Linked DNA regions of Homo sapiens: regions 2, 3, 4 and 5 are each linked to region 1. The links come from fine-mapping of genetic effects on gene expression. A gene starts in region 1. Each other region holds a variant in brackets. All regions are shown on one strand. Distances are from middle to middle.

Evidence for each region. PIP is the estimated chance that this variant, and not a neighbour inherited with it, causes the effect.
Region 2: its variant is fine-mapped to the expression of NOC3L in spleen (GTEx, PIP 0.95).
Region 3: its variant is fine-mapped to the expression of NOC3L in whole blood (INTERVAL, PIP above 0.99).
Region 4: its variant is fine-mapped to the expression of NOC3L in uterus (GTEx, PIP 0.96).
Region 5: its variant is fine-mapped to the expression of NOC3L in whole blood (TOPMed, PIP 0.98).

Annotation. Positions count from the first base shown.
Region 1 is chr10:94,359,435-94,365,821 of GRCh38, forward strand. It overlaps NOC3L (NOC3 like DNA replication regulator), which reads right to left and starts at 3,505. Exons shown (of 21, transcript NM_022451.11): 1 at 3,396-3,505; 2 at 2,231-2,438. The coding sequence starts at 3,404. RefSeq lists an enhancer at 3,179-3,438 and a silencer at 3,579-3,708.
Region 2 is chr10:93,919,485-93,925,871 of GRCh38, forward strand. No RefSeq gene overlaps it. Among named protein-coding and RNA genes, the nearest start is that of SLC35G1, 29 kb to the left of the region's middle. The variant G/T (reference allele first, on the strand shown) is at 2,352.
Region 3 is chr10:95,246,834-95,253,220 of GRCh38, forward strand. It overlaps PDLIM1 (PDZ and LIM domain 1), which reads right to left. Exons shown (of 7, transcript NM_020992.4): 5 at 382-533. Among named protein-coding and RNA genes, the nearest start is that of PDLIM1, 41 kb to the right of the region's middle. The variant G/A (reference allele first, on the strand shown) is at 2,640.
Region 4 is chr10:94,220,471-94,226,857 of GRCh38, forward strand. The region is part of intron 4 of PLCE1 (phospholipase C epsilon 1); the gene reads left to right. Among named protein-coding and RNA genes, the nearest start is that of PLCE1-AS1, 63 kb to the right of the region's middle. The variant C/T (reference allele first, on the strand shown) is at 2,535.
Region 5 is chr10:94,293,727-94,300,113 of GRCh38, forward strand. PLCE1 (phospholipase C epsilon 1) reads left to right here. Exons shown (of 33, transcript NM_016341.4): 24 at 4,653-4,943. Among named protein-coding and RNA genes, the nearest start is that of PLCE1-AS1, 9.8 kb to the left of the region's middle. The variant C/A (reference allele first, on the strand shown) is at 3,146.

The DNA of each region.
Region 1 (6,387 bases):
TGTGAAACTCCGTCTCAAAAAAAAAAACAAAAAAAGACCCTAGTAAATCTTGCTATATAAATGTACACACTGCACAGAATGGCACTCCTATCTACTTTAAATGAGCCTTCTAAATTTAATAATCCCATTAAAAAATGGGCAAAAGATATGAATAGACATTTCTCAAAAGAAGACATACAAATGGCAAACAGGTATATGAAAAGGTGCTCAACATCATTGATCATCAGGGAAATGTAAATCAAAATTACAATGAGATATCATCTCATCCTAGTTAAAAAGGCTTTTATCCAAAAGACAGGCAGTAACAATGCTGGCAAGGATGTAGAGAAAAGGGAACTCTCATACACTCTTGGTGGGAATGTAAATTAGCACAACCACTATGGAGAAAAGTTTGGAAGTTCCTCAAAAAACTAAAACTAAAAATGGAACTACTATATAATCCATCAATCCCACCCACTGCCAGGCATGAATCCAAAAAAAAGAAATCAGTATACCGAACAGATATCTGCACTCCCATGTTCATTCAGCACTATCCACAAGAGCCAAGATTTGGAAACAACCTAAGTGTTCATAAACAGATGAATGGATAAAGAAAATACGGGGCCAGGCGCGGTGGCTCACGCCTGTAATCCCAGCACTTTGGGAGGCCAAGGCGGGCAGATCACGAGATCAGGAGATCAAGACCATCCCAGCCAACATGGTGAAACCCCGGCTCTACTAAAAACACAAAAATCAGCCAGATGTGGTGGTGTGCGCCTGTAATCCTAGCTACTCGGGAGGCTAAGGCAGGAGAATCACTTGAACTGGGGAGTCGGGGGTTGCAGTGAGCCGGGATCGTGCCACTGCACTCCAGCCTGGCAACAGAGAGAGACTCCATCTCAAAAAAAATAATAATAATAATAATAAAAGAAAATATGGTACATGTACACAATGTAGTATTATTCAGCCACAAAAAAGAATGAGATCCTGTGTGCAACAACATGGATGAAACTAAAGGCCATTATGCTAAGTTAAACAAGCTAGGCACAGAAAGACAAATTTCACATGTTCTCACTTATTTGTGGTAGCTAAAAATTAAAACAACTGAACTCATGAAGAGAGTAGAATGATGGTTACCACTGGCTGGGAAAGGCAGTTGGAGGAGATAGGAGTAGGGATGGTTAATGGGTACAAAAATACACTTAGAAAAAGATCTAGTATTTGATAGATAGGATGACTATAGTCAACAATAATTTATTTTATGTTTTAAAATAACTAAAAAAGTATAACTGGATTGTTCGTAACACAAAGATAAATGCTTGAGGTGATGGATACCACATTTACTCTGATGTGATTATTATGCATTGTATGCCTGTATCAAAGTACCTCATGTATCCCATAAATATATACACCTACTATGTACCCACAAAATTAGAAAAAAAAAAAACTTTAGCTGGGTGCTGTGGCTCACCCTTGCAATTCCAGCACTTTTGGAGGCTGAAGCAGGAGGACTGCCTGAGCCCAGGAGGTCAAGGCTGTAGTGGGCTATTTTTGCACACTGCACTCCAGCCTGGGTGACAGAACAAGACCCTGTCTATTTAAAATAATAATAATAATTTTTAAAAAATGGACCTGAGAAGACTGAATAGTTGTCTAATAATCTGATATAGTCAAATAAGAATACCCTAAAAGTACCAGCAAAGTTGTAGAACTAGCCTGACTCAAAATAGTCATATTCCTTACAAGTTTTGAGTACTTAATAATTTTTAGATAGTTTTACAAAATAACCATGACAATTACAACTCAATTTCACCCCAAGTTTCCACATGAAAAGAAAGTCAGAAGTTTAGAAGTGTACCTTGGCAATACTGTGAAGAATGAACCAGAGACAAGCAATGTTCTTACCTTACCTAACTGCTGGTGAATGGCAAAGTGGCAGCACTGGCACACTGCCCAATATTTATGTAACGGAGTACTTTCAGTTTGTTTTCCCAAGTAGTGCATCTTCAGATCTGCCTTCCAGACAAACTAAAAGCAGAAGCTTGAATGAATACTGTATTGAAATGTTTTCTCATACTGACTGTGATAAAGCATATATGCTTTATAGCAGTCCTATAGGACTACTATCCTTACCCACTCTAGGAAGATCTGAGAACAAGAAAAGCGATTACTAGAAAGCAAAGTTATTTCCATGAAGAACACTTCAGAATAAATCAATGGAAACCAGAGCACATGATGTTTTCACAATTACCTGGTCGCTTTTCCTTTGGGTTCTCCAATGGAATGGGTTTCTTAGACACAGCATCTTTCACAGCTTGCCTTAGTTTCCTCTGTTCTTTTCGGTACTTCTTGAGAGTGCTTTGTTGTTTAAACTGCTTATTTTTTAGCTTGTTTTCAAGTTTGACTTTACTAGTTTTTATTAACTTGCGAAAGCTTGGGATCTGTTTTTTATTTCTTCTCTAGAAAATAACAGAAAGAATACTGCATACCCAGAAACTTATTTTTTAAATCAGGTTAAAGAGAACTGATTACAAATTTCATTAGACCAATTCCACAATTTCAATGTCCCACAGCCACAGACTTGCATATAAAAGCTAAAACCAAACGATGGCTTTAATCCTACAGAAGAGCGCTACAGCATCAGTTATTCAATCCCAATTCACAGCAATTCAAAGGGTTCTACGATCCCCAAACAGGTTAAGAACCACTGATCTAGTAGTGGTAAGTGGCTATTCAAGGCTAGTTTAACACACCTGTAGTTTAACACATTCAAAGCAAAATGCTGGCTGTCTTTAATAAAACTTACATTTATCTACGATTTTATTACTTACAAAGTGCTCCAACAAATCACCTCTAACAGCCTAGTTGAGTACTGACTGCTGTTATCCTCACATTACTGATGAAGCTGCCAAAAGACCCATAAACTAAGGAGGGCAAAACTGAATTCGGATCTTTGGATTCCACTTCTCTTGCTGGTGACTCATTCAGAAATCCCAAAGTTAGTCCTGAACCCCAGGACTACCTCTTATTTTCTGGGAGAACCAGGACAAATCACTTGCTTTTCTATCTCTTTACCCTTCATGGGTACCGTGACTCACATTATAAACTCGCTGAGGGTAGGACCCTGCTTCTCATTTGTGAAAAACGAGTTCGAAAGACGGTCTTGAAAAATTCCTTCAAAGTATGAAATCCCACGCATGCAAAACTCCGTGCCTGTCTCTTCGTGATACTCTGAAGTGGTGCGCGCACACAGTGGGTAACCAAGGATGAGCTCGGTGTAAGGAATGGAAAGCCCCCAGTCTAAACCACCGCCCCCTAGACACGGGTGAAAACCTGCCTAAAAGCTAACTCAGGCAGTGACTCTATCACCCGAAGGGGCCCTAGGCCGCGGCGACCGGGCTTTTGAGGACACTTACCGCCTTCATCCTTAGGCCTTAAATGAATGCCGGCCAGACAAGTTCACCAGAAGCAGGGTTACTACAGAAATCCCGGGGAATGACACACGTGCCGAAGTCCCTACACTACCAGAGCCGGAAACGGCCTTCAGTCCCTCCCAATCCTCCGCCGCCGGAAGTGAGGGCGGGACTTCCGTAGACAGGTTCGGGCTCGCGCCCTCTCGCGGTGACTGTCTCGCGGCCCTGGACCGGTTGCCCCCCGGCGTGCGCGCGCGGACTGGCACGAGGGAAGCCCCGAGGGCGTCGGTGCCAAAGGCGGGAAGCCGGGCGGGAGGGGCGCATTTTGCAAGGTTATCTGAGTATGATTCTTTGACTCTCGCCCTATTTATTTCTTTTAAAACCTTGGGGAAATCGGGCTCCTCCTCTCAGAATGAGAGGACTTGGTTTTTTCGGTCACCTCATTGCATTTTGTGCCTCTCCTCACGTTGCTTATCTCATGCTGTTATAGATACTGATTTTCGTAGTCTTTTTCCTCCATACAGTCCTGAGGGCAGAAAGAAGCTTATTTTTTGTGTGTAATGCCTGCCCCTCGACGGACATTCTGGCCGTGTTTGTAGCATGGCGAATGATTTCTCATCAGCCTTGGTCACTTAAAAGTCTGTGATTCTTAGTGTTTTATTTTGCATTTTTTTTTTGCTTTAATTTTTAACCATTAGCTGATAAAGAACTGTATCCATGGCTGGGTGCGGTGGTTCACGCTTGTAATCCCAGCACTTAGGGAGGCAGAGGCGGGTGGATCACCTGAGTTCCAGGAGTTCGAGACCAGCCTGGCCAACATGGTGAAACCCTGTCTCTACTAAAAATACAAAAATCAGCCAGACATGGTGGCGTGCGCCTGTAATCCTAGCTACTCGGGAGGCTGAGGCAGGAGAATCGCTTGAACCCAGGAGGCAGAGGTTGCAGTGAGTCGAGATCACACCACTGCACTCCAGCCTGGGTGACAGAGCAAGACTGTCTAAAAAATAAAAATAAAAATAAAAAACTGTATCTGCATTTCAGTATCTTACAACTTTGGGTAAATTCTGTCTGCTTAGTAATTTCACCAAAGTCGTTTTTTGTTTTTGTTTTTTGAGACGGAGTCTTGCTCTGGCGCCCAGGCTGGAGTGCAGTGGCGCAATCTGGGCTCATTGCAAGCTCTGCCTTCTGGGTTCACGCCATTCTCCTGCCTCAGCCTCCCGAGTAACTGGAACTACAGGCGCCCGCCACCACGCCCAGCTAATTTTTTTTGTATTTTTAGTAGAGACGGGGTTTCACCGTGTTAGCCAGGATGGTCTCGATCTCCTGACCTCGTGATTCGCCCACCTTGGCCTCCCAAAGTGCTGGGATAACAGGCATGAGCCACCGCGCCCCGCCTAAAGTCGTTCATTTTTACAGGAAGTTTTATGGATTGCAAGAATAAGAGTATCAAAGTGCTTGTCTCTCAAAGACTTTTTTTTCTCAATAAATTTAAGCATTCCACTTCAAGTTTTTTGTGGGTTTTTTTGAGTCTATGATTTTTGAGCATGGCCCTGACACAGAGTCTGGCCTCGCAGTCCTGAGCAGGTGGGAAAACCCAGTAGTGCGGCTCAAAGGGTTCTGAGCCCCTTGAATAGTGTTGCTCTTAGAGAGACTGAGGGAAAAAAGTACCAATTTCCTGATCCCACCACAAAGACCAAGAGGTCCATCTGGCACTCTTCTTTCAACCTCCCTTCCAACTTCTTCCTTGCTCTGTCTCCTTCCACACAGTGTCAGAAACAGCAGAGCCTGTCCCGCTGGAGTATTACTTCATCAAACAAGTGGAAAACATCAGCCTGTGCTCTTCCCAAGTGCCTGAATTCCCTCCCAAGCATATCAACATATCTACAGTCACTCCCATCCTTTTAGCCTTCCTTCCAGTCTCTCCAAGGATGAGGCATCCCCATTCCAGTTCAAAACCAACTCCTCCCAGCTTCATCAGATTCTTGTATCATTAATTATCCCTTCTTTCCTGTGTTCTTTCCCTCTCTAATAGATCCTTCCCCTCAGCTTATAAACATATTCAAATCTCTTCCATTTTTAAGATTTGTTCTAATAAACTTATCTCCCTTTAATTGCTCTTTTATGTGCCTCTTTTCCTACTTGTCCCTACTTCCAGAAAAAAGTATTCTTTTAGCGTCTCCACTTTCTCTTCTCTATTGTCATAGCCCAATCCTGTGCTAGTATTTTCTTTTTTAATATAAAGATTGCCTTTTTTTATTTTTTTTCTCTGTTGCCCAGGCTGGAGTGCAGTGGCAGCTCTCAGCTCACTGCAGCCTCAACCTCCCAGGCTCAAGGGATCCTCCACCTCAGCTTCCTGGGTAGCTGAAACTACAGGCACGCACCACCATGCCCGGCTAATTTATATTATTTGCAGAGATTTGGTCTTGCTATACTGCCTAGGCTGGTCTCAAACTCCTGGGCTCAAGCAGTCCTCCCACCTCAACCTCCCAAAGTGCTGGGATTACAGGCATGAGCCACCATGCCCAGCATGTGCTAGCTTTTTTAAGAACTGTGTCATACTCTTGGCCCATTTTAAGTTTACAATCAACTAAAATCTCTGGATCATTTTAAAGCAATTGTTGCCAAGCTAAATCTCTCCCATCTTGAATTCGAGCAGCCTGTTGTTCGAAAATACTCAAAAATGGAAGTTTATATGATTCCTTTTAATTCCATTTAATCTTGCTGGTTTCTTAATTCTGTGTGTCCACCTTTGTGTCATCTCTTCTTCACTCAATCCACTGCCAAGCCCCATTTGGACTCCAGATCCTCTTAGATCCCTTAGAGCTTTCCTGGACACTTGAGCTGATAAGGGTCACTGGGCTTTCCCAAACTAGTATCACAGGGATTGTACCTGGAGATTCCTGTTAGCACTTTCAGGAAGTCTGTTAAGAACTTACGTGGCTTTGCCCATAACATTCCGCTGAAACTGATCTAATTAAGGTCACCAAGAACCTCC
Region 2 (6,387 bases), 440 kb before region 1:
ATAGTGGACTGTGTCAGGAAAATGTGCTACATATACACCATGGAATACTATACAGCTATAAAAAAACAAGATCATGTCCTTTGCAGGAACATGAATGGAGCTTGAGCTCGTTATCCTTAGCAAACTAACACAGGAAGAGAAAACCAAATACCACACGTTCTCACTTATAAGTGGGAGCTAAATGTTGAGAACACATGGACACATAGAGGAGGAACAGTGGACACTGGAGCCTTCCAGAGGGTAGAGGGTAGGAGAAGGGAAAGGATCAGGAAAAATAACTAATGGGTACTAGGCTTAACACCTGTGTGATGAAATAATCTGTACAACAAACTCCCAAGACACAGGTTTACCTATATAACAAATCTGCACATGTACCCCTGAACTTAAAAGTTTTTTGTTTTTGTTTTTGTTTTGTTTTGTTTTGTTTTGTGATGGAGTCTCGCTCTGTCACCCAGGCTGGAGTGCAGTGGCACCATCTCAGCTCACTGCAACCTCTGCCCCCCGGGTTCAAGCGATTCTCCTGCCTCATTCTCCCGAGTAGCTGGGATTACAAGTGCCCACCATGATGTCCGGCTAATTTTTTTGTATTTTTGGTAGAGACGGGGTTTCACCATGTTGGCCAAGCTGGTCTTGAACTCATGACCTCAGGTGATCTGCCCACCTCAGCCTCCCAAAGGGCTGGGATTACAGGTGTGAGCCACCACACCCGGCCCCAAATACAAGTTCTTTTTACAAAGCTTACCAAATGGAGCCACAAAAAAAGAAGTAAAGAGAAATCGTCATGTTATGATATTAAGTGGAAAAAGCAGGAGAATAAATATATAAATAATATAAAGTATATATCTACATATATATAATACATGTCCTCACCTCTAAGATGACTAAATGATCTCTGAGGTCCCAAGCATGATTTTATAAAGTGAAGAGAGCAGTTAGATATCTTATCAGTGTATTGTCATCACATGTTATCAATGTCTGGAATCTATAAAATGATGCCAGTGACACTTGGTACTAGTATGAGGTCAGATTCCCTAGGAGAGCCCCAGACAGAGGTTGAGGTGTGTGTGATTTACTGGGCATATGCTCTTCAGGAAAAGCTCATGAGGAAAACAGACCAGGGAGGGGGAAAGAGGCAAGCAAGGATGCACTTTTTTAAATTTATGTATGTATTGAGACGGGGTCTCACTTTGTCACCCAGGCTGGAGTGCAGTAGCACAATCTCAGCTCACTGCAACCTCTGCCTTCAGGGCTCAAGCAATCCTCCCACCTCAGCCTCCTAAGTAGCTGCCACCACACCAGGCTACTTTTTAAATTTTTTGTAGAGATGGGGTTTTGCCATGTTGCCCAGGTCAGTCTCGAATTCCTGAGCTCAGGTGATCCACCCTCATGGGCCTCCCAAAGTGCTGGGATTACAGGCTTGAGCCACTGCACCTGGCAGAGGATGTGCTTTCAGGAGCATAAATCACACCACTGCATTGTAGGTGGGTCTTATACCCAGAGCAATTCTTGGGGATGGGGAATCTGTGAGCCATTAACAGCCAGGTTCAGTGGCCTTAATTTCTAAATTTTGTTCTCCTGGGTAAAATAAGGTGCCTGAATTAAATCAATGAAGGATCCTTCACGTGGGCCTGGGAATCTCCAGGAATTATATTTAAAATTCAGCTTTCCATGCAGTTTTCTGGGATTCAGGTGCATAACTTTTGTCAGATTCTTTGAGGACAGGGTGACTTCAAGCTTCCTTCCACCCCAGCACTTTGAATAGGAGTGTGAGAAGAGACTTAGGTCAGAGGAGGAAGCTAAGCACTGAATTCTTAGTTCTAGTTTTAGAAACATAATCGACCAGAACAGGGATTCTTTGGTCTCACCTTATCCCAACCCCCATTCAAATTTAGGAAAATTAAAGGCAGTCTCCCAGAACCCACTCAGACCCACTCGCTTTCACAGCCACATCTTTTCAGCTCCGCCACCTCCCGGTGAGGGGGGTGTTATCCTCGTTTTACAGAGGGGAAACTGAGGTGCCAGTGATGTGACTCATTCAGAATCCCACAGCACCCCCTTGTGGTGTGGAGCTATGGTCAAGACTTGCTGTGGAAACCAGTGGCTTGCGTTTCTTGATTTTTTTTTCTTTTTTTGAGACAGGTTCTCACTCTGTCACCCAGGCTGGAGTGGAGGGGCTTGATCTCAGCTCACTGCAGTGTCAACTTCCCAAGCTCAGGTGATCCTCCCATCTCGGCTTCCCGAGTAGTTAGGACCACAGGAGCATGACACCAGCCCAGCTAATTTTTGTATTTTTTGTAGAGATAGGGTCTCACCATGTTGGCCAGGTTGGTCTCGAACTCCTGGGCTCAAGC[G/T]ATCCATCTGCCTCATCTTCCCAAAATGCTGGAATTACAGGCGTGAGCCACCATGCCTGGAGAAATATTTTTGTTTTAAAAAATACTGTATTTATCTTTCAAAGGTGATACTTTAAAAATTCAACAAGCGAGAAAGTAAAGAAAAGGGAATCCTTCTACACTGTTGGTGGAAACGTAAATTGGTGTAGCCACAGTGGAAAACAGTTTGGAAGTTTCTTGAAAAATTAAAAATATAATATGATTAAAAAATCCCACTTCTGGGCATATATCCAAAGGAATCAAAATCAGTATACTGAAGAGATATCTTCACTCCTGTGTTCACTGCGGCATTATTCACAATAGCCAAGACGTGCAAGCAACCTAAATTTCCAAAGGACAAATGGATAAAGAAAATGTGGTGTATATATACATACAGTGGAATATTATTTAGACTTAAAAGAGAAAGAATCTTGCCATTTGCGACAACATGAATGAACCTGGAGCACATTATGCTAAGTGAAATAAGCCTAACACAGAAGGACAAATACTACATGATACCAATTATATGAGGTATCAGGTATAGTCAAACTCGTAGAATCAGAAAGTAGAATGGTGGTTGCCAGGGCCATATGGCAAAGGAAGATGGGGAACTATTGGTCAAAGGGCACAAAAAATTTCAGTTATGCAACATGAATAGGTCCTAGACATCTGTACAACATAGTGCCTAGAGTTAATAATATTGCATTTTATACTTAAAAATTTGCTAAGATGGTAGATCAATGTCAAGTGTTCTTAACACAAATTATAATGAGGGTGGGAGGAAACTTTTGGAGGTAATTGATATGTTTATGGCATAGATTGTGGAAATGGTTTCATGGATGTATACTTATCTCCAAACTCATCAAGCTGTATGCATTAAATATGTACAGATTTAAAATAAATAAGTAAAGTTGCAGCAACAGTCAGAGAAGATTTTCCAAGGACTGCAATCACATTGCTCTCAGAACATATTTTCAAAGCAAGAATCTGTATAGGACATTGACATCTGGATTTCTGATGCATTTCTTGTATCTTAAATCAGGGATTGCATCATTAATAAACTTCCATATAGTTAAAAAATTAGCAACACAGAAATGTAAAATATAAATGGAAGGCTCAATTCCCCTGACCTTTAAGTAGTAGAGTGGATTCTTCTTTTATTTTTCTCCTCTTTTTTTTCCCATTTTTTTAGAGACGAGCTCTCCTTCTGTAGTCCAGAGTGGACTGCAGTAGTATGAACTTACTGCAGCGTTGAACTCCTGGGCTCAAGCTATCCTCCTGCCTCAGCATCCTAAGTACCTGGGACTACACATGTACACCACCATGCCTAGCTGGATTCTCTTTTCGATAGATACATATAGATTTGTTTGTTTAATTGATTGATTAATTTTTACAAAATGGAATCATATGGTACATTCTGTCCCGAAACTTCTGTCCCACTAGACAGTATATCACGAAAATTTTTCATGTCAGAAGATAAAGACATACCTCATTCATTTGAAAACAATAGTAAAAACAACATGTATATATATTTCAGACCATCAATATGTTAATTTAAACGGCCAGATTAAATCATATTGGTAAACAATGTGGAGTGAAACTTCTGCCATCTTAGAGCAATTATTCGAACTTCCTGTAAACTGATTATGAAGGTTGTAGTTCTAAACTATTCAAAAAATTCAGGAACTTTTCAGGACCACTCACAACAAATTGTTAAAATAAGCATGCTCTCACAGCCCCGGGGGCTGCCCTGCAGGAAATGTTGGATAATGTTCAGGTCCATCTGCTTTGTGCAGGTGCTCATGACATCGTAATGACAAACTGTACAATAGCAAGAGAACATACAAGCTGCTTTGCCATGATTATATTATATTATATATAATTTTAGCTCTTATAATTTTGGTGTCCTGCCTGTCTGACCCCTTATACTTATAAGAGAGTTTTTATAAAGTTTGAGTGCTTATGGTTTACCTTTTATTTTTACTTTTTTTTTTTTTTTTTTTTTTTGAGACAGAGTCTTGCTCTGTCGCCCAGGCTGGAGTGCGGTAGCACAATCTCAGCTCACTGCAAGCTCCGCCTCCCGGGTTGATGCCATTCTCCTGCCTCAGCCTCCCGAGTAGCTGGAACTAGAGGCGCCCGCCACCACGCCCGGCTAATTTTTTGTATTTTTAGTAGAGATGGGGTTTCACGGTGTTAGCCAGGATGGTCTTGATCTCCTGACCTTGTGATCCGCCCACCTCAGCCTCCCAAAGTGCTGGGATTACAGGCGTGAGCCACCATGCCCAGCCTTTTTTTTACAGATAGGGTCTCTCTCTGTCTTTCAGGCTAGAGTGCAGTGGTACAATCAGAGCTCACTTTAACCTCAAACTTCTGGGCTCATGTGATCCTCCTGCCTCAGGCTCCAGAGTAGCTAGGACCAAGACACACATCACCACACCTGTCTAATTTTTAATTTTTTTGCAGAGACAGGTCTATTTTGCTTAATCTGGTCTTGAACTCCTGACCTCAAATGATTCTCCCATCTCGACCTCCCAAAGTGTTGGGATTACAGCTATGAGTAACCATGCCTGGCCTAGCTTTTAATTTTATAAATGTTACTGTATTTCAGTAGAAGTAAAATAAGTAAGCTAAGAACTAGAAGCCAAATGGTGTATTGATAGACAGCTAGACAGGCATAGATATAGATGTATAATTACCTAACAAATCCTACTAAAATCAGAAAATCTAAATAGCTTCAAATTGAGTTAACTGAGCTTAATATGGCAATGCAGAAACATAATTGTACCAACCTTACAATGCAGATAAAATTCCAGGGGTGAAATTTTAAATATAACATTATTTTACTTAACCTGTAAAACAAATGAAAAGTGATGGTTTTGAAACTTTAAGTAAATGCTTGACTGTGATAGCACCAAGTATCTGATTTATTTTTATTTTTTTTCTTTTGAGACAGAGTCTCACTCTGTTTTGCAGACTGGAGTGCAATGGCGAAGTCACAGCTAGCACCACAGCCTCAAACTCTGGGTCAAGTGATCCTCCTGCCTCAGCCTCCTGAGTAGTTGGGACTATAGGTGCATACACCACCATGCCCCCCAGCTAATGAATATTTTCTTTTTCTTTTTTTTGAGACGGAGTCCCCCTGCATCACCCAGGCTCTTCTTCTGTCGCCCAGGCTGGAGTGCAGTGGTGTGATCTCGGCTCACTGCAAACTCTGCCTCCCAGGTTCAAGCAATTCTCCTGCCTCAGCCTCCCAGGTAGCTGGGATTACAGGCATGTGCCACCACGCCCAGCTACTTTTTGTATTTTTAGTAGATATAGGGTTTCATCATGTTGGCCAGGCTGGTCTTGAACTTCTGACCTTAAATGATCCACCTTCCTTGGCCTCCCAAAATATTGGGATTACAGGCGTGAGCCACCACGCCAGGCCAATGAATATTTTCAAATTGGATTTATTGAACACCTCATAATGTTTCAGTACACATGTAAAAAGTGCATTATACTGGAAAAAACAGTCTGGCATGGTGGTTAACAGTTTCAGTTCTGGAGTCAGACCATGCTGGGTTTGAATTCTAGCTCTATCTATCTCTAACTAGCTAGGTGACTCTTGGGCAGATAATATCACCTTTCTGAGCTTCAGTCTCCTCATCTGTGAAATGGCTTTACTAGTCTCCATTTTACAGGAACATTGCAAGAATTAAATGAGATCATGGAGTTAAAGAGCTTAGCACAATGGCGGATCCCTAATAAGTGTTAGAGATTATTATTGTTTTAAAGAAAGGAAAAGCAAAGGCCACTCAGGGCCAAGGTGAAGGATGCTCTTCTCTGAGGTCTTGCTGAGCCACAAGTAGCTTGTCAGGACCTCTTTGTCACATCAGCCTAACCCCTATGTCCTGTGTTCTCAGCCACTTCACTGCATGATCTCACTCCCAGTGAGTACTCACCTCCAGTAGGGAGATGCCCTCTGTTATACATTTTTTTTTCCTTTCTGACATCTGCATGGAAAAAGAAAAGAAGCTCT
Region 3 (6,387 bases), 890 kb after region 1:
GCCTTCATCACTGAAGTTCCTCAGCCACTACCAAGGTATTGTTTCTGGGCTCAAAGCAAATAAATGGCCAAGGGACAGACCAACAGGCTCCCACAGCAGTCAGGCTCACCCCAACCTTAGCATCCTCTTGCACATGTGACAGGACACAGTTGGCCAGGCCTGGAGTTTCTTAAATACAGACCCAGATGGGAAAATGTGGTCAGCACTCTCTTCCTCTCTCTCTCTCTCTCTCCCTCTATCTCTTTTTAAAGAATTTCAGCATTTTAAAAGCCCATGCCCTCCAAAGCAGGCTCCAGAGTGTGTTCACCTGTGCTTCCACAATGACTGACTCTCACATCTGACCTTGAACAAGAGCCTCTGACTGCAGATGGAGCTGATTACCTTTTTCTTCAGACTCCAGGATTTCCTGCAAAACCAAGAAAGACGTGGACTGTTTCGGGGGCTCATTCAACTCCTGTTTCTCCTGAAGCATCTTGTAAACTTCAGATTCTTTGTCGATGACAAGGCTGCTTGGAGGCTGAGCATGGTCTAAGCTGTAAAGAATGTTTGAAAAATTGATTAGGACATGACAGAAGTTAAAAATAACTTCACCAGGAACCTCCTCCAGGCAGACACTGCTGATTTGAAGGATGGATAGAAATGATCTCAAAGCCCTCTCCTAAATCAGCCACAGACCTGCTGCCAGCACAGTGAAACTGAGATGTCTTTGTAGTCAGAGCTGGCTGCTGCTTCAATGCAATCAGAGGCTCTTCTTCTAAATAGCTTCAGTAGCTCAATTACTTTTTGGCCTAATCCAGTGGAATGAGAATGCTCTATCTCTTTATAAATTCCATCAGCAGCATTATGTCCAGAGAAAATTTAGAGAAAAAAAAATGTCAACCACAAGCCAACCATGAAGAACTCAGCCGGGTCCCCCTTGTATGGGCCACAAACATTGCTTGCACAAGCAGGAATCATAGTGTTATTCATTCCCGACGATCTCACAGTGCTTTCCCTGTCTATAAATACTTCCTGATTCTCAAGGCCAGGCACTTGGGTCTCCTCACCTATAACACAGAGGTAACAGTACTTTCCTTGCCTGGTTCACAGTTTGGTGGTAAGGATGGGACACGCAAGTGCTTTGTGAACTGTTGATGTTCAGGCCCAGGGACTGGGCAAGCCAGGCCTTGTCTTCCCCACCTTCCTCCTGTCATGCTGGGTGACCCAGAACAAGATAAGACAGGCAGAGCCTGCCTCTTTCCCTGAGGGCTCCACTTTCTAAGCAGTGGACGGTGACAGGGAGGTAGTCTCTCATCAGCTATACCTGTAAATCTATCCTCCATCTGACCCCTTCTCACCTCCCCACCTCCCCCAGGTCCAAGCCATGCCATGCTTAGGCCAAAGTGATGGCCTCTATTCAAAATATCAGAGTGATATTTTTTGTTTTTTAGAGACAGGGACTCACTCTGTCACCCAGGCTGGAGTACAGTGGTGCAATCACAGGTAACTGTAACCTCGAACTACTGGCCTCAATAGATAAATCCTCCTGCCTCGGCCTCCTGAGTGGCTAGGACTACAGGTGTGCCACCATCCCCCGCTGATTTTGTCATTATTTTGTAGAGACAGAGTCTTGCTGTGTTGCCCAGGCTGGTCTCAAAGTCCCAGCCTCAAGTGATCCTCCAGCCTCGGACTCCCAAAGCGCTAGGATTATAGGCATGGGCCAGAGTGCCTGGCCTAGAATGATATTTTAAACATGAATCAGACTGTGTCATGCTGTGGCTCAATGTATTCTCATTTGACTTAGCACAAAATATTTAGTTTTAATACTAAAATATATGTTTAATCAAATTCAACTTTTTTGGAGTAAATGTTATCACAGAGGAGAAAGTCCCTCACATATGTGACCCAAACTTCTCCCTCCACACACATCCCCTGCCAGCCCTGGCCCACTCTGCTCTACTGAGACCAGGCTTCCCGCTGTGCCTGGGAAACACTAGCTTCACAGCCTATGCACTTACTGCACCCTCAGCCTGCAATGCCCTTCCCAGGTGTTGTCATGGCTCCCATGCTTCATCCAGGTCTCTGCTCAAGTGCACTCCTCAGAGAGGCCTTCCTGACCCCGACTCCAAACAGTCCGCCACATCCCCACTATCACTCTTAACTCCCTACCTGCTCTCTCACCATGGATTCCAGTGTATTCCCTTATTTCTTTGTTGTCTATCTCCCCCTGGAAAGTAAGCCCCAGGAGGGCAGGAGCATGGCCTGTCTTGCTCCCCATCACATTCCCAGGCCCGGCTCAGTGCCTGGCACAGGTCACAGTTCAGCAGGCAGCAGGCATCAGGCAAGTGAACGAACACTGCAGAATGGGTCCAGGGCCTCCTTCCTCCTTGCTGTGCTCCCCCTGTTCCTGCAGGCTCACGAGGTCCTCCAGGGCAGCCAGCCTCTGAGGGTTGTGCCAGGGACATGGGCAGCCCCACCTCCTGGCCCCAGATCACCACCTTCCTCTCAGCTGAGCTGCTAAGGAGAAAGGCCAGTGTGCCCAGTGGAACCAAAGAGCAAATATCAGATGGTGGGGCAATTTATTGATGCAGATGGATAGATTTGTATATAAACAAGTTGTGCTTCCTGAGTAATAAAGCTATAAAGTCTCCAGCCCACCA[G/A]GCTGCCTCCCAGCTTTACAGATGCAGGCAGTGGCCAGGAGTGGTTTTATTCAGCAACTCTAAACAGACTCTCTTTAGGGCTGGAGCCACTTTCACAGGTGCAAATGAATTATATCAGTTACGCTTACTCATTTCCAGGGTATATGTTTTCCCTGGGTAATTCTCCGCAAGTTCCCTTTTCCTCTCCCTCTCTTCCTCTCCTTTCTTCCTTTCTCTTTTCTGAGACAACCTCTGGGGCACGTTCAGTACTCAGGTCCCCAGCTAAAGGCAGAGTCAATCATAGCAATCAAGGTCCAGGTGTTTCCCTTCCACTCCAACCATGTTCTCACAATAAAGGAAAAGGCACCCAAAGAGTGGCATATGCTTCATGGCTACCAAAGAAGGTCAGAGTTTAAGTAGCAAGATTCATGGGTTGGTCACTCCGGCCGGCTGCATTTGGGGAAGGGAAAGCAGCTATCCCTGCCTGTCCTGCCCACTCCTGCTTGGCCTCTTCCCCCACCTGCAGGGAACTGTGGGTGCCTCTCAGGGCAGGCAATGGGGCCACCTGGGGGAGTTGTTTTAACCAAGGGTCTTTCTTTGTCTCACTTTCCAGCCCTTTCTTTGAGTTATATGCCTGACTCTTTGAGTCCTGAGTTTGGAACTTGCCCCATAATAAGCATATTACATTATTTTTGGATAAATCTTTTTTCTATTACACTTAGGACTATTTTAAAATTGAGATCAGACTATGGAATGTTCTTGGGAAAGATTTTTCTTCTTCTTTGGTGTATGTTATGTCTGGAAGCCACCAATGGAACACACCAAAAAAATGACAGAACCCAGACCACAAGGCCATCACATATTCTTCCAGCAAATCACCTTGTGAGGGATTTCTATAATTTAAAAAAAAAAAAAAACTTACCATTTTTCTCAAATAATGATAGTATCTTTAAACCACTGGACAATTTATAAAGGACTCTCAATATCTATTACCTTACTTAAGGTATTGATACACCTGACTCAAAAATAACATCCTAAGATCCAACGTCTAAGTCTTAGACACTAGATTACAAGGTATTGACATGATACCACAATATCTTAAAAAATGATGACAAAAATATGAAGGAGAAATGGAGCAAAAAATTTCTCGTTTTTATATTAAAAACAGCAATGAAAGAATATTACAGTGATATGGCTTCAGAAAATATAATACACACCACTCAGTCTCCAGGAGAAAAAGTTTTGACGGCGTAACAGTGAAAATGAACACTTTCTTCTGAACCCACTCTATACAGTTTTAATAACGAGTTTAAGCAAATTCAACTACTTTGGAGTAACAATACGTTACACAAAGTTTCCTAGTTCTTGTTTCTCCCTGGGAGCTGATGTGTATCTGTTTCCTAAATGTTTAATATTTTCTCCCACTATTTTAGGACGTGACCTGAGGGCCCCAGGGTTATTCTAGCCAAGCCACTCCCATCCCTGCCAAATAAGATGGCTGACACAGCCAGGCGTAGGAGGATCCTAGTGGTCTTTAGAACATAAGCAGAAACTCCCCTTGAGCCCACCTCCCAGAGGAGGATTTTGGAGGCTGAGCCTGCAGACCTTATGTGTTTCTCACACCTGCTCCAGCCAAAAGGGCAGCTGGGGTGAGGGTCAGAAGGACGAGGAGGATGGAAAGCAGTACGCCCATGGCTCTGGAGCATGGGTCAGCACAGCAACCCTGGGATGAAAGTCTACTCCATCAGAACCATGAAGTGCCCAGAGTGAGGATATAAGGGGCTTTTTTTTTTTTTTAACTTGGGCCATCATCTGTGGCAGCAACTTAATTATCTGTATATAAATCTCAGCTAGGCCAGGTGCGGTGGCTCACACCTTTAGGAGGCCGAAGCAGGTGAATTGCCTGAGCTCAGGAGTTCGAGACCAGCCTAGGCAACACGGTGAAACTCCTATCTCTACTAAAATCCAAAAAAAATTAGCCAGGTGCTGCAGCGTGTGCCTGTAATCCCAGCTACTTGGAAGGCTGAGGCAGTAGAATCGCTTGAACCTAGGAGGCAGAAGTTGCTAAAACAAGACAGCCATAAGAAAAAAATCCTCATTGCTGATACAACCTTAGTAGGGTCATTTTCTCACACAGTAAGAACATTTTGATACTTTAATAAAACTACCTGTATGTGAGATAAAAATTGGAATAGAAACGGGGATTACGTGAATTATTGAAAGCATCCAGACAGGAGAAGATGGTCTCCTCATAAAAATATTTTTCCTGTCTGAGAAGATGAGGTAGACATATTTTTCCCTGTTTCACCCAGTAAAACCAAAAACCCTGGACATTACATATAAAACAACATGAGAAGACTCTGACAGGGCAACGGAAGCCACACTGGCTAGGGACCCCACGTCCTGAGGACCACGATGGTGAGCTCCCAGGGTGTTCTTGTTTCCTTGGACATCCCAGACATGGAGCGGAGGGCAGCAACCTGGAAAGGGCAATGGGCACAGACAGAAGAAGTCTCAAGAGGAGCCTGCTGTATCTGACCAAATAACCAGAAAGGGGCAGCCCAGCAAAACACAACACATTGAAACAACACTATTCTCCAGCCAAATGCCAGAAAAGGCCAAGTGGGGGGTCCAGACTTCTAGTCTCACCAGGCTATGATGTGGTTCCCCAACTATCTCACTGGGGTAGATTCAGAGAAAGCCCAATAGAGAGTCCATATTTCATCCTTACCCAGCTGTAATGAAGAAAACCTAGGAGAGAATCAGGACTCTCACCACTGCTCAGCAGTGTCTAGGCCACCACTCACCCATAAGGTGTCAGTGGAAGCCATATGGGGAGCCAGAACTCCCACCCCATCCAGCAGTAATGAGTGGCCCCAATGACCTCAGGTGTGACATAGGCAGAGTGGGGAAAGTGGACTTTCTACCCCCACCTGTCAGTAATGAGGCAGCATCCCCAATCCCATATCTGAGAGGAAGCCAGTGAATACAGAAGGTTTTAATGCGATCCAGAATCTAATAACATAGTAACAAGAATGTTCAAGATTCAGTTGAAAAATCACATCTCTCAGAAGAACCAGGAAGATCTCAAACTGTAAATAAGACAATAAAGAGATGCCAACACCAAGATGACAGAGATGTTGGGATTATCTAACAAAGATGGTAACACAGTCATCATAAAAATGTTTCAATGAACAATTATGAGCACATTTAAAACAAATAAAGTCTCAACAAACAGAAGATATAAAGAATGAAATGGAAATTCTAGAACTGACAAAATAACTGAAATAAAACCACAGTGGATACACTCAGCAGCAGCATGAAGGAGACAAAGGAAAGAATCAGTGAACTGGAAGGTGAATATTAGAAATTATACAATTTCAAGATCATAGAAAAATAGAATGGGGAGAAAAAAAAGAAATGAAGAGCCTCACAAACCTATGGGAATATATAAAAGATCAAAAATTCATGTCAATGGAGTCTTGGAAGAAGAGAAAAAAGGTGGAACTAGAAAAGTACTAGAAGAAATCATGTCTGAAGGTGTCCTAAATTTGGCAAAAGACATAAAGAAGTGAAGTGAACAGGAAACAGGATAAACCTAAAAAAATCCACACCAAAACATATCATAGTAAATTTCTGAAAACTACAACAAAGAAAGAATTTCCAAAGCAGTAGGAGAAAAATGACGCCTTATCTAGAGGGGAAAACCAATTCAAAAGACAGCAGATTTCTTATCAGAATCCATAAAGAAAAGAAGGAAGTAGCACAA
Region 4 (6,387 bases), 140 kb before region 1:
GGGAAGCCTTGAGAGAAGAGGTAACATTTGAGTTATCCTTCTCTTAAGAGAAGACTGTACTCGGGGCACAAACCCTTCTCAGGGCAGTCACAGATTCTTCTTGGTCCAGCCTGTTAGTTAGGAAGTGGGATTTAGAGATTCCAGTCTTCAGGATTTCTGTGTTCTGTCACCTGAAATTCAGCATCTCTACAACAGTACTTGCAGCAGCAGAGCAGTCACAGTAGTGAACATCTATCCCTTAACTGCACACTAAGCATCATGCTGAGATCTTTAGATACACTCTCCAACTTCACCCTCACAACAATTTTAGGAGGTAAACAGTATGCCCATTTTACTGAAAAGGGAATTAGGGCTCAGAGCAGTTAGATGGCTTGCCTCAGGGGCACGCACAGGAAACGGTGGGGCTGGGAGTGCACACAGGTCTACCTACCTCCAGCGCCGGGCTCCGCCACTACACCGTGCTGCCTCCCTCCAGCTTCCCCTTGTTCCAAATGGGTTACAGTCTCAATCTCAGGTACAGTTAACTGGTGAGGCCAGAGAGGTGATTTACAATTTTGCGCTGGTACTACAGAAATGACGCCTGATCTGACTCAAGGCCCTGGGGTGCAGAAAAAGGTCACTAAGCCCCTGGGTGAGTTCTCAAACTCCAGCGCATATAAGAATCACCAGGGAGTTTATCTGAAAATGCAAATTATTGATCTCTGGCCTTAAGAGAGCCTGATTTCTCAGTCTGAGGCCTTGGAATCTACATTTGAACAAACACCTAAACACCACCCCCAGTGCTTCTGATGTCAGTGCTCCACATTTGAGAAGCACTGCCTCTGCAAGGGTGTGTGTGTGTGTATGTGCCTGTGCATGCACACATGTGCATGTTGTGTGTGTGTACATGCCCACATGTGCTAGTCAAGATGTTTCAGTAAAGCTCCATGGAGGATAGGTATGGATGTGCACTACACATAAACTACTTGAAAGTAGCTTTGTCATAGCCGGGTTCAGTGGCTCACGCCTGGAATCCCAGCACTTTGGGAGGCCGAGGTGGGTGGATCACCTGAGGTCAGGAGTTTGAGACCAGCCTGACCAACATGGAGAAACCCCATCTTTCTAAAAATACAAAATTAGCCAGGTGTGGTGGCGCATGCCTGTAATTCCAGCTACTTGGGAGGCTGAGGCAGGAGAATCACTTGAACCCAGGAGGCGGAGATTGCAGTGAGCCAAAATCGTGCCATTGCACTCCAGCTGGGCAACAAGAGGGAAGTTCTGTCTAAAAAAAAAGAAGAAGAAGAAGAAGAAGAAGGAAAGTAGCTCTGTCTAGACTTTCATTATATTTTGTAGACTTTACCATTTGAATTCAACCTTTGCAGTTAGAATGACCAGATACCCATTACAAATGATCATCTCTTTGAAAACTTCTGCTTGGCATTTTCAAGAAACTTTTCGGCAGAAAGTCATTTGTCTCCTTTTTCTGGACCTGGGAACAGCACTGGGAAGTGTTCAGGCCTTTTCCCAAATATAATCCCTGAGCGTTTGGAAGCTGAGAATCCTCCCTGCCCACGGCCTCCTGGGACTCTGGATGGCCTGCCTGTCTGCCAGAGACACTGAGCAACTCCATGCTGGAAATGTGGGAAAGATGGTCTCTGTCCTGGAGGTCTAAGGGTCTGCTGGGGGAGACAGAACAGGCCCATGTGAAAGAGTCAGGCACACAAATATAACAAAAATAAACCAGAGGCAGATCCATGCAGTGGTGAGAATACAAGTGAAACTTTGAACTCAAGGTCCTACATTAAGTCAAAGAGAAGTAGGAAGAAATGGAATGAAAGGTGCTAGGTGAACCATGAGAAAAGCCTCCCTAGAGGAGGTAAGCTTCATTCATTCATTCATTCATTCATTCATTCATATGTTCACTCCTTCGCTGACTCTTGTTTAAACTTACCGAGGGCAGATCCTGACAGGTCACCGACACTGCTGCTTACCCGTGAGCATAGCAGATCCAGCATCTGCCTTAATGAGGATCACAGCACTAAATGTGCGCTAGGGTCAGGGTGATGTGGGGGCACCACAGAGCATGCAGTGTGTGGACACACTCCAGGTGGGAAGTCAAGGAAGTTCTGCTCAAGAAAATGATGTTTTTATCAGACTCCTGAAGGCAGCCTCACCCTTTCCTTTAGGGGGCCAGGGCGTGAGTACAAGGGAGGCCCCAGCATGTTGGCCTTCCCACCTTCTCTTCCCATCCTGGCTTGTGTGCCAGAGTATGTATACCTCAGGCCTCAAGTTCAAACCCTGTCCACACATCACCCCCACCCCCACTGCCCTCTGGCCTGGCTTTAGGCCTAGGGGTTACAATCTACCCTCTGAAGGACTGATCCAGATAAACAGCCCTTGCAGACCAGCAGTGGGCTTGGTGCTGTTTGGACAGGGAATTTGGGAAGCGTGGGTTTACAAGGGATAAATTATCTAGAAGTGAGTGTGCAGCCTATGGACAGGCACGTCCCCTCCACCCCATAGACTTCTTACTCTATGGAGAGGGCACAGCTGGA[C/T]GACAGCCAGTGTGGAGCCTTCTGAAACCTGGGGTCCAGGGCAGGATCCTGATGGCATGGTCTCAGGGCAGTGCTGCCTAAAGGATGAGTAGGGTTCAATGAATAAAATGCCAGGCCGTGTGTGGTGGATCAACTGTAATGCCAATGCTATGGAAGCGGAAGCGGGAGGATCACTTGAGGCCAGAAGTTCAAGATCAGCCTGGGCAACATAGTGATACTCCATCTCTACAAAAAAAAAAAAAAAAAAATTGAATCTGGGGTGATGGGGAAGCCTTCCTGCAGAAGGAACAACCAGTTCAAGATTCCTGAGATGTTAAAAAGCCTACTTTACCTCCCTAAAAGGAGGGATATAGGGGAGAGGTGAGGTGATTGGAGAATGGACAGGGGCCTGGTGGGCCAAAGTAAAGATTTGGCTTTGCAGAGGACACAAGCAAGACATGGTGGACCAGGGAAAGGTCATTTTGAATGATGCAAGAAAATTCCTTCCAAAATGAGCATGTGTGACACCAATAAGGTATTTGATGTGAGGAGAGGGAGTAAACTGTTCTATTTGGCTAAGCCCAAGAGTACTGAGAAAAGCAAAAGGAAGGAAAAAAAGATATTTTGGGAGGGGCAGTTGTGGAGGAGTTGTGGGCATGGTCCAGGGGGTTATGATGTCAGGGTAAGCCCAGAACCTTCTGGGAGAGGTGCTTAAAGAATTGGGCTGGGGGCCAGATTCTCTCCTCATTCTGTGCTTACTATTGAAATAAGCAAAATAATCTGCTACCATTAACACCTTTCTGCTCTAGTAGCACTCCCTATGCCTAAACCATAGTACTTTATATTTATATGATTTTTTTGTTTTTCTGTGTGATTGCACAGAAATTCTTTCTGGATTGGCAACACATCCCATTTTCCACTTAGTAAATGTGACCACCTTTTATGCTTTGGTCAACATTTTGACATTTGTCACTGAATCTTCATTTCCTTTTTGTGTCATTTATTATTTTATAACTAGCGGTGGCCCTCTCACCATTTAATGCTTATAAAATTATGAATACATCAGACCATAATAAGAATTGTCCGTGAGGCTTGTAAACAGATGTTGGGGTGTGTGTGCGTGTGTGTGTGTGTGTGTGGTGTGTCTGTGTGTGTGTTTATGATAACAGTGCTTACATAATCTCAACAACCAGGGCCCTGGGGACTCACACTCGGCAATGGAACAGTTGGTTTAAATTAGGTTTCCATGTGAAATATGGTATCGCTGTTTTTTTCCTAGCATTGTGGGAAAGTATATGGAAAATGATTTGACTGATAGGAAATAAATCTGGATGAGTGATCAGGATTGTGACACAAACCAAGTGGTGGTCTCCACCTGCCCTGTGAAGCAGACCTCTCCAGGGGGAGGTGAGTTAACCCTTTCCAGCCACTGGACTAGTAAGTCAATGCATGGTATCAGAACAGCCTGAAAGAATGACAACTTTCCAGAGACCCTGATTTGCCATCAATTTCAACTAGAAAGGAGCTAAAGCCATAGAGACAATATAGCCAGAGGCCTCAACAACTAATGAGTTGGGTGGCTTTGAGAAACTGTTTTTTTACTTTTCAGGATCTCATTTTTATTTGTGAGAAGTGTTTGAATTTCCAACTCAAAGAGTCAGTAGGGTTATGATGCTAAGTGTTTGCTGATGGTTTCCCATTTTAGGATAGGGCTCATCAAAAGCCAGTCAGACTAAAGGAAGAATTAGATGGATGCACCAATGACTCAGTCTCTGTTAGCAAAATAATTTCTTGCTCTAGTGAGCCAGGGTTTCACAAAGGTGACTTTTAACCAAGGAATCAAGTGAGAGGACAGGCATGGAGACTGTGAGCAAGGGGTTACTCATAGCTGCAGGAGACGGGTCAGCACTAGGAATCCCAGACAGTTCCTGGGATGATGTGGACCAGGGTTTGTCCCAAGGGTCTGATTCCAGACCTGTTCTCCTGATGCCACCTGAGGGCCCAGTGAAGTCCAGTACAGATGGAGGGCAGAGGCACATGCTGGGAGCCCACTAGGCTCAGGACTGAGCTTGAGGGTGGCAGGTAGCCCAGCACGTTTTGCTTCAGTCTGTTTCAGAAGGGAAGAGGAAGATTATTAATTACTCCAGTGCCTCTGGCTCATACCAGAGAATAGACCTGTTTTATCACTAAAACTCCCTGTTGCTCTGATTTTCCTGTTTGTTTCTATGTAGGGATAGGAAAGAGGTGTGAGCAACCATTCATTTTGTTTTTTTCATCTCTTTAGTCATATTTTGGACTCTTCTCAGTATTTTCTCCTTTTATTCCTGCTCTGCCTTCACATATGCAGCTCAAAACTGAGTGCTTAGGAGGACCTACCCAGAGCCAAGTCTGAAAAAACTCACCTTTCGGCTGGGTGCGGTGGCTCACGCCCGTAATCCCAGCACTTTGGGAGGCCGAGGTGGGTGGATCACTTGAGGTCAGGAGTTCAAGACCAGCCTGGCCAACATGGTGAAACCCATCTCTACTAAAAATACAAAAATTAGCCGGGCGAGGTGGCAGGCCTTGTAATCCCAGTTACTCGAGGTTGCAGTGAGCCAAGATCATACCATTGCACTCCAGCCTGGGCAACGAAGCAAGATTCTGTCTAAAAAAGGAAGAAAGAAAGAAAGAAACTGTCAACTTTCACCAGATGAAAGAGCACTGGGCTGGGAGTCCTACTTTTGACATCAACAAGAATTGTGACCTTGAAAAGTCACTTCTCCCATGAGCCATAGATTCTCGATCTGGAAAAATGGGGTTGCACTGCCCTCTGTGGTTGCTGCCAGCACTCAATGCCATTAATTCTTATCATTTTATCCACTTACAGGCAGTATGCCATTGACCTTGAGCTCTTATTTCCTGCAGTTGTCATGGGTCACCATAAACTCTGTGTTCCGGCCTCTCTAACTTAGTCCAGAGAAAAGTGTTGCTGTCCAGGCTTCAGCACTGATGCTGAACCAAGCGGAGCTTGTAGGGCCATGTGAGGTCAAGACCAAGACTTTGGTCTGTTGACAACCAAGCTTATCAACCCAGATGCTAGTCAGGATAGAGAAGGTAACTTAGGTGGACACCAGCATCTAAGCACCAAAGTAAAGGTGGCAGCAAAATAATCATAGAGCAGAAGCAGATGATTTAGAGGCTGCATATCATAAGGGGAGGGTGTAGACATGGATTATTTTTAAATATTGTCCTCCAGTCTGTGTAGCAGGAAAAACGAATCACATTAGAATAACTTTAAGCCCAGAACTGAAGAACATTAGAGTTTGTGTAAACACATCAGGCATTTTGTGAGTGGTTGATAATGCAACCTCTGGAGAAGACACCCTAAGTTCAAACCTAGGCTTTGCTACCTTCAACGTGGTTGAAGACCTTACACACATCCCTGAGGACAGTAACAGTCCCTGACTCTTAGAATTGTTGTGAGAGATAAATGAGGTAATATAGGTAAAGTGCTTAGAATGGCTCCTGGCACATAATAAGTGCTCTATAAATATTTGTTCATAATATTTTGTCATTTGAGGGGCATAATAGATAAAGCATTTGTAAAAGATTGTTTAAAAATGTTTTTATTTTTCCTTTGATATTATGTATTTTAATACTTAGTAAATGTCTTTAACTGATGGGTTAAGTACATTTCATTTTAATGTCCATCAGTCAAATATCTTTCAATCAAAATTATCCTTAGGCCTTATTTTCTTATAGTCAAAAGAAATTTTTTCAATCAAAGGATTTTATGAATTGCCTTTTTCAGCCTTCTTGTTTTAAAGAAAATAAAGAGAGAGTTATAAGAGATTAAGGACCTATAGGTCTTTTTTTTTTTTTTTTTTTTTTTTTT
Region 5 (6,387 bases), 66 kb before region 1:
TTTTAATTCTTTTTCCTGAACATTAATATTGTCTGAGTATAGTATAAATTTTTGTAATTGCTAACTTACACTTTTAACGTACTAAAAACAGCATTTCAGGCTGGGCACAGTGGCTCATGCCTGTAATCCCAGCACTTTTGGAGGCCAAGGCAGGTGGATCACTTGAGGTCAGGAGTTCGAGACCAGTCTGGCTAACATGATGAAACGCCATCTCTATTAAAAATACAAAAAGTAGCCGGGTGTGGTAGTGCACACCTGTAATCCCAGCTACTAGGGAGGCTGAGGCAAGAGAATCGCTTAAGCCCGGAAGGCAGAGGTTGTGGTGAGCTGAGATCGCACCACTGTACCCCAGCCTGGGTGACAGAGCAAGATTCTGTCTCAAAAAAATATTAAAAAATTAAAAAATAAAAATAACATTTCACTGAAGATGTTTGAACAGTGTTTGCCTCACGAGTAAAAATTAGAGGCACCTTGGAACATTCTTGGAACATTCTAGTGGTTTCTTGGAGCTGTTCTCTTCACCATTATAACTCCAGAAGATATGGCTATTTTATTTCTAGTTACTTTTTATTATGAAAGTAATAAATTCTTGTAGTTAAAAACTCAAACAATACAGAGTATTATTAAAATTCCTTTCCACTCAATGTCCTGGTGCTATTCTCCAGAAGTAACCACTATTAAATTTATTGTGTTTTGTTCAAGAAAAATAAGATCCTTTTTAAGATAATCCAAATGGGATACAGGCATACTTCGGAGATATTGCAGGTTCGGTTCCAGACCACTACAATAAAGTGAATATCACGATAAAATGAGTCACATTAATTTTTTCGTTTCCCAGTACATATAAAAGTTATGTCTACACTATACCATAGTCTATTAAGTGTGCAATAGCATTATGTCAAAAAAATGTACATACCTTCAATAGAAAATACTTTATTGATACAAAATGCTAACAATCATCTGAGCCTGTAGCAAGTTGTAATATTTTTGCTGGTGGAGGGTGTTGCCTCAACGTTGATGGCTGCTGATTCATCAGGGGGGTGGTTGCTGAAGGCTAGGGTGTCTGGCAGTTTCTTACAAGAAGGCAACAGTGAAGTCTGCCACATCAACCAACTCTTCCTTGTACAAAAGATTTCTCTGTATCATGCAATGCTGTTTGATAGCATTTTACTCATGATAGAACTTTTTTTTTTTTTTTTTTTTTTTTGAGACGGAGTCTTGCTCTGTCACCCAGGCTGGAGTGCGGTGGCAAGATCTTGTCTCACTGCAAGCTCCACCTCCCGGGTTCACGCCATTCTCCTGCCTCAGCCTCCTGAGTAGCTGGGACTACAGGAGCCCACCACCACGCCCGGCTACTTTTTTTGTATTTTTAGTAGAGATGGGGTTTTACCATGTTAGCCAGGGTGGTCTCGATCTCCTCACCTCATGATCTGCCTACCTCAGCCTTCCAAAGTGCTGGGATTACAGGTGTGAGCCACCGCGCCCGGCCATGGTAGAACTTTCAAAATTGGGGTCAGACCTCTCAAACCCCACTGCTGCTTTATCAACTAAATGTATGAAATATTCTAAATCCTTTGTTGTCATTTCAACAATGTTCACAGGATCTTCGCCAAGAGTAGATTCCATCTCAAGAAACCACTTTCTTTGCTCATCCATTAAGAAGCAACTCCTCATCCATTCAAGTTTTATCACGAAATTGCAGGAATTCAGTCACATCTGCAGGCTATACTTCTAGTTCTCTTGCTGTTTCCACCATATCTGCAGTTACTCCCTCCACTGAGGTTTTAAACCCCTCCAAGTCATCCATGAAGTTTGGAATTAACTTCTCCCAAACTTCTGTTAATGTTGCTCTTTTGACCTCCTCCCATGAATCATGAATGCTCTTAAGGGCGTCTAGAATGGTGAATTCTTTCTAGGAGGTTTTCATTTTATTTTCACCAGATCCATCAGAGGAATCACAACCTATGGAAGCTTTAGCCTTATGAAATTTATTTCTTAAATAAGACTTAAAAGTTCAAATTACTCCTTGTTCATGGGCTGCAGACTGGATACTGTGTTAGCAGACATGAAAAATCATGCTGTAAACAGATGTGCTGTCATCTAGGTTTTGTTGTTCCATCTATAGAATACAGGCAGAGTAGATTTAGCATGATTCTTAAGGGCCCTAAGGATTTTCAGAATGGTCCATGAGCATTGGCTTCAACTTCAAGTCGCCAGCTGCATTAGCCCCTAACAAGAGAGACAGCCTTTTCTTTGAAGCCAGGCATTGACTTATCTTCTCTAGCTATGAAAGTCCTAGGTGGCATCTTCTTCCAATAGAAGGCTGTTTCATTTACAATAAAAAGTTGTTGTTTGGCCGGGTGTGGTGGCTCATGCCTGTAATCCCAGCACTTTGGGAGGCTGAGGCAGGTGGATCACAAGGTCAGGAGATCGAGACCATCCTGGCTAACACGGTGAAACCCCATCTCTACTAAAAATACAAAAAAAAAATTAGTTGGGCATGGTGGCGGGTGCCTGTAGTCCCAGCTACTCAGGAGGCTGAGGCAGGAGAATGGCGTGAACCCGGGAGGCGGAGCTTGCAGTGAGCCAAGATCGCACCACTGCACTCCAACTTGGGCGACAGAGCAAGACTCCATCTCAAAAAAAAAAAAAAAAAAAATTCTGTTGTTTAATGTAGCCACCTTCATCAATGATCTTAGCTAGAACTTACGAATAACTTACTGTAGCTTCTCCATCAGTACTTGCTGATATTATGTTATGGAGATGACTTCTTTCCTTAAACCTCATGAACCAACCTCTGCTAGCCTCCAACTTTTCTTCTGCAGCTTCCTCACTTCTCTCAACCTTCATAAAACAGAAGAGAGTTCAGGGCCTTACTCTCAATTAGGCTTTGGCTTAAAATATGTTGTGGCTGGTTTAATCTTCTATCCAGACCACTAACACTTTCCCCATATCAGTAATAAGGCTGTTTGGCTTCCTTATCATTTGTGTGTTCACTGGAGTAGCACTTTTAATTTCCTTCAAGAACTTTTCCTTTGCATTCATAACTTAGCTAAATGTTTATCGCAAAATGCCTAACTTTCAACCTGTCTTGGCCTTTGACATGCCTTCCTCACTAAGCTTAATTATTTCTAGCTTTTTATTT[C/A]TTTCTTTCTTTTTTTTTTTGAGGCAGAGTCTCACCCTGTTGCCCAGGCTGGAGTGCAGTGGCGCGATCTCAGCTCACTGCAACCTCCACCTCCCGGGTTCAAGCGATTCTCCTGCCTCAGCCTCCTGAGTAGCTGCGATGACAGGCGCGTGTGCCTGGCTAATTTTTGTATTTTTAGTAGAGACAGGGTTTCACCATGTTAGCCAGGCTGGTCTCGAACTCTTGACCTCTGGTGATCCACCCGCCTCAGCCTCCCAAAGTGCTGGGATTGCAGGCATGAGCCACCGTGACCAGCCTAGCTTTTGATTTCAAGTGAGAAACGTGTGACTCTCCCTTTCACTTGAACATTTAGAGGCCAATGTAGGGTTATTAATTGGCCTCATGTCAGTATCGTTGTGTCTCAGGGAATCGTGAGGCACAAGGAGAGGGAGGGAGATGGGTGAAGGGCTGGTGGGTAGAGCAGTCAGAGCACGCACATTTGTCAATTAAGTTTACCATCTTATGGGTATGGTCCATGGCACCCCAAAACAATTACAATAAAACATCGAAGATCACTCGTCACAGATCACCATAACAGATATAATAATAATGTTTAAAAGCTTGAAATGTTGCAAGAATTACTAAAATGTGACACAGAGACACAAAGTGAATACATGCTGTTGGAAAAATTGTACCAATAAACTTGCTGGAGGCAGGCCTGCCCCAAACTTTAAATTTGTAAAAAAAAAAAAAAAAAAAAAAAAAAAAAAAAAAAAAGTGCAGTATCTGCAAAGTGCAATAAAACAAAGCACAATAAAACAAGGTATGCCTGTATAACCAAACATACATGTATAACTTTATATTTGCTATAACTTTTCACATAATTTTCTGTACATATAGCTTCCTTATTCTCTTTAATGCTTGTGTGGTGGTCCACTGCATGGATATACTGTCATTTATGGAATCACTTCTTCACTGATACATTTGGGTTGCTTCTTGGTTTGGTTTGATTTTGTTGTTTCCTATGAAAAACAATGCTGGAGTGAATATCCTTGTACATATATTGTTTATTTGTGCAAATATACCACAACCCAAATGAAGTACTGAGGCAAAGGACTTCTAGGCTTTTAATTTAAATTGATGTTGCTACATTCATTTTGTTTTGTTTCTTGTGTGGGGTTTTTTGTTTGGTTTTATTTTATTTTTTTACTTTTTGTAGAGATGGGCTCTCACCATGTTGCCCAGGCTGGTCTTGAACTTCTGGGCTCAAGCAATCCTCCCACCCTGACCTCCCAAAGTGCTGGGATTATAGGAATGAGCCACCACACCCAGCCACCACACTCATTTTAAAACTAAGTAGCCACCATGTTGTTTTAAAGTGGCGAACTAACTCACAAGTAAAATCCAAGAGGTATTCTGATGTGGTTTATATGCTATGACTGTTTACTGGGATGTTGTTCAGGTTTATCTTTCTAAAATATTTAAAGTTTTCTACACTAATCTGCGGCTAATTTCTTGGGGGGTTTAGGTTCCTGTGAAGGCATTCGACAGACCTGGGAGGAATCTTCTTCCCCTCTCAACCCAACCACGTCCCTCAGTGCTATCATTAGAACTCCCAAATGTTATCATATCTCGTCGCTGAATGAAAATGCCGCCAAACGTCTGTGTCGCAGGTATTCTCAGAAACTGACCCAGCACACCGCCTGTCAGCTGCTGAGAACTTACCCTGCTGCCACCCGCATCGACTCTTCCAACCCGAACCCCCTCATGTTCTGGCTCCATGGGATACAGCTTGTGGCACTCAACTACCAGACTGATGGTAAGGGGCCTGCATGCTCACCTCGCTCCTTTGCATCTTACATTTCAGTAAATGCAGTTTGACAGCATTTTTTCAAAGGGGCAAGATTCCAGACTGGGGCACACCATATGTGAGAGTAAAAATATGATGATGGAAAACAGAAGTGAATTTGATACTGAATTGTGCCTCCGATGTTTCAGATTAAGGTGATAGAAAAGAATCTTGAAGGGGCCTGTAAGGTCTCCTGGTCCTGCCCCTTTTTTAATGCAGTTTTTCAAATACCAAGCTGCTCTTGACAAAGCCATGCCCGGTTTATGTTTAAAGCTCTTTTTGGAGCAGGGATTTCCTAACACTGCCCAGTTAACCTGTCTCACTACGCAGTTGTTCTTGCAGTCAAAAGGTAGTGTCACTCCAACCACTTTGCAAGTTAAAACCATGTTAGCGTCTTATCCTTTTGGAATTGAGATGGAGAATAATGGTCAGTGCCCGAAGAGTAGCTAGCAAAAGGAAAACAACTATGTGAAGTACATGAACAGAGTAAGTAGTGATCATGTTTCTCCAATGTCAATGAGACTCTGATATGACGCCTAAAACTCCAGAGTAGAAGCTGCCGTTTATTGCACGCTTACTGTGCATTAGGCAGTACGCTGAATTTTTGACCCCCTATTATCTTATTTAATATTCACAACAGCCCTAAAGTTGTGTACCTTTATGATCGCCATTTCTCAGATGAGCAAATCAAGGCACAAATTGGTTAATTTGTTCAAGGTTGCAGGATGACTTGTAGTAATAAATTCAAGGAGTCTGGAAGTTTAAAGGATAAAGCATTATGTTTCCACTTGGTTATGGGGGAGGAGAGGAGCTACAGAAGGTAAGAGTAGATAAATGTTTCCTAAAAGCTCTTTCATAAACCACAGTTTTTCCTTTGAACAGTCAAGCGGCAGGCAGCTGTTATCATTCATCTCGCGTGAACTGAATCCAATCTCATCTAACCATGCTGAACCACAAACCACAGTATGGCCTTGTCTCCAGCTGAGGTCAAACCACAGCTTTAGCTCTGGGACCAGCTAGCTACCTGGCACTGGTGCCAACAACACCCATTGGTGGATGCCCCAAAGACATATGATTAGAGATATTGGTCACATTTCTGCCCTTGTTATATGTGCTTCTTTCAGTTAAAATTAAATAAGATGATGCCGGTGAAGTACCATATTTAGCATAGTGCCTGGCACATAGAAAGCATTCTACAAAGGTTAACTATCATTGATTGTGTTTGATAAGTTATGAAAACAGTATGATTTGGGCTCACAAATGGAAATAATTGTGAAATACTTTCAAAGTTGTAAAAACTTTATTTTCTATTTCTGTTCATTCTTTCCTGAGTGGCTGGTGGGTTCACATCTCCAGCCCTGTCTGTAGTCCTGTGTCCACCTGGTGCCATTGGTTATTATCCCGGCATATTTTA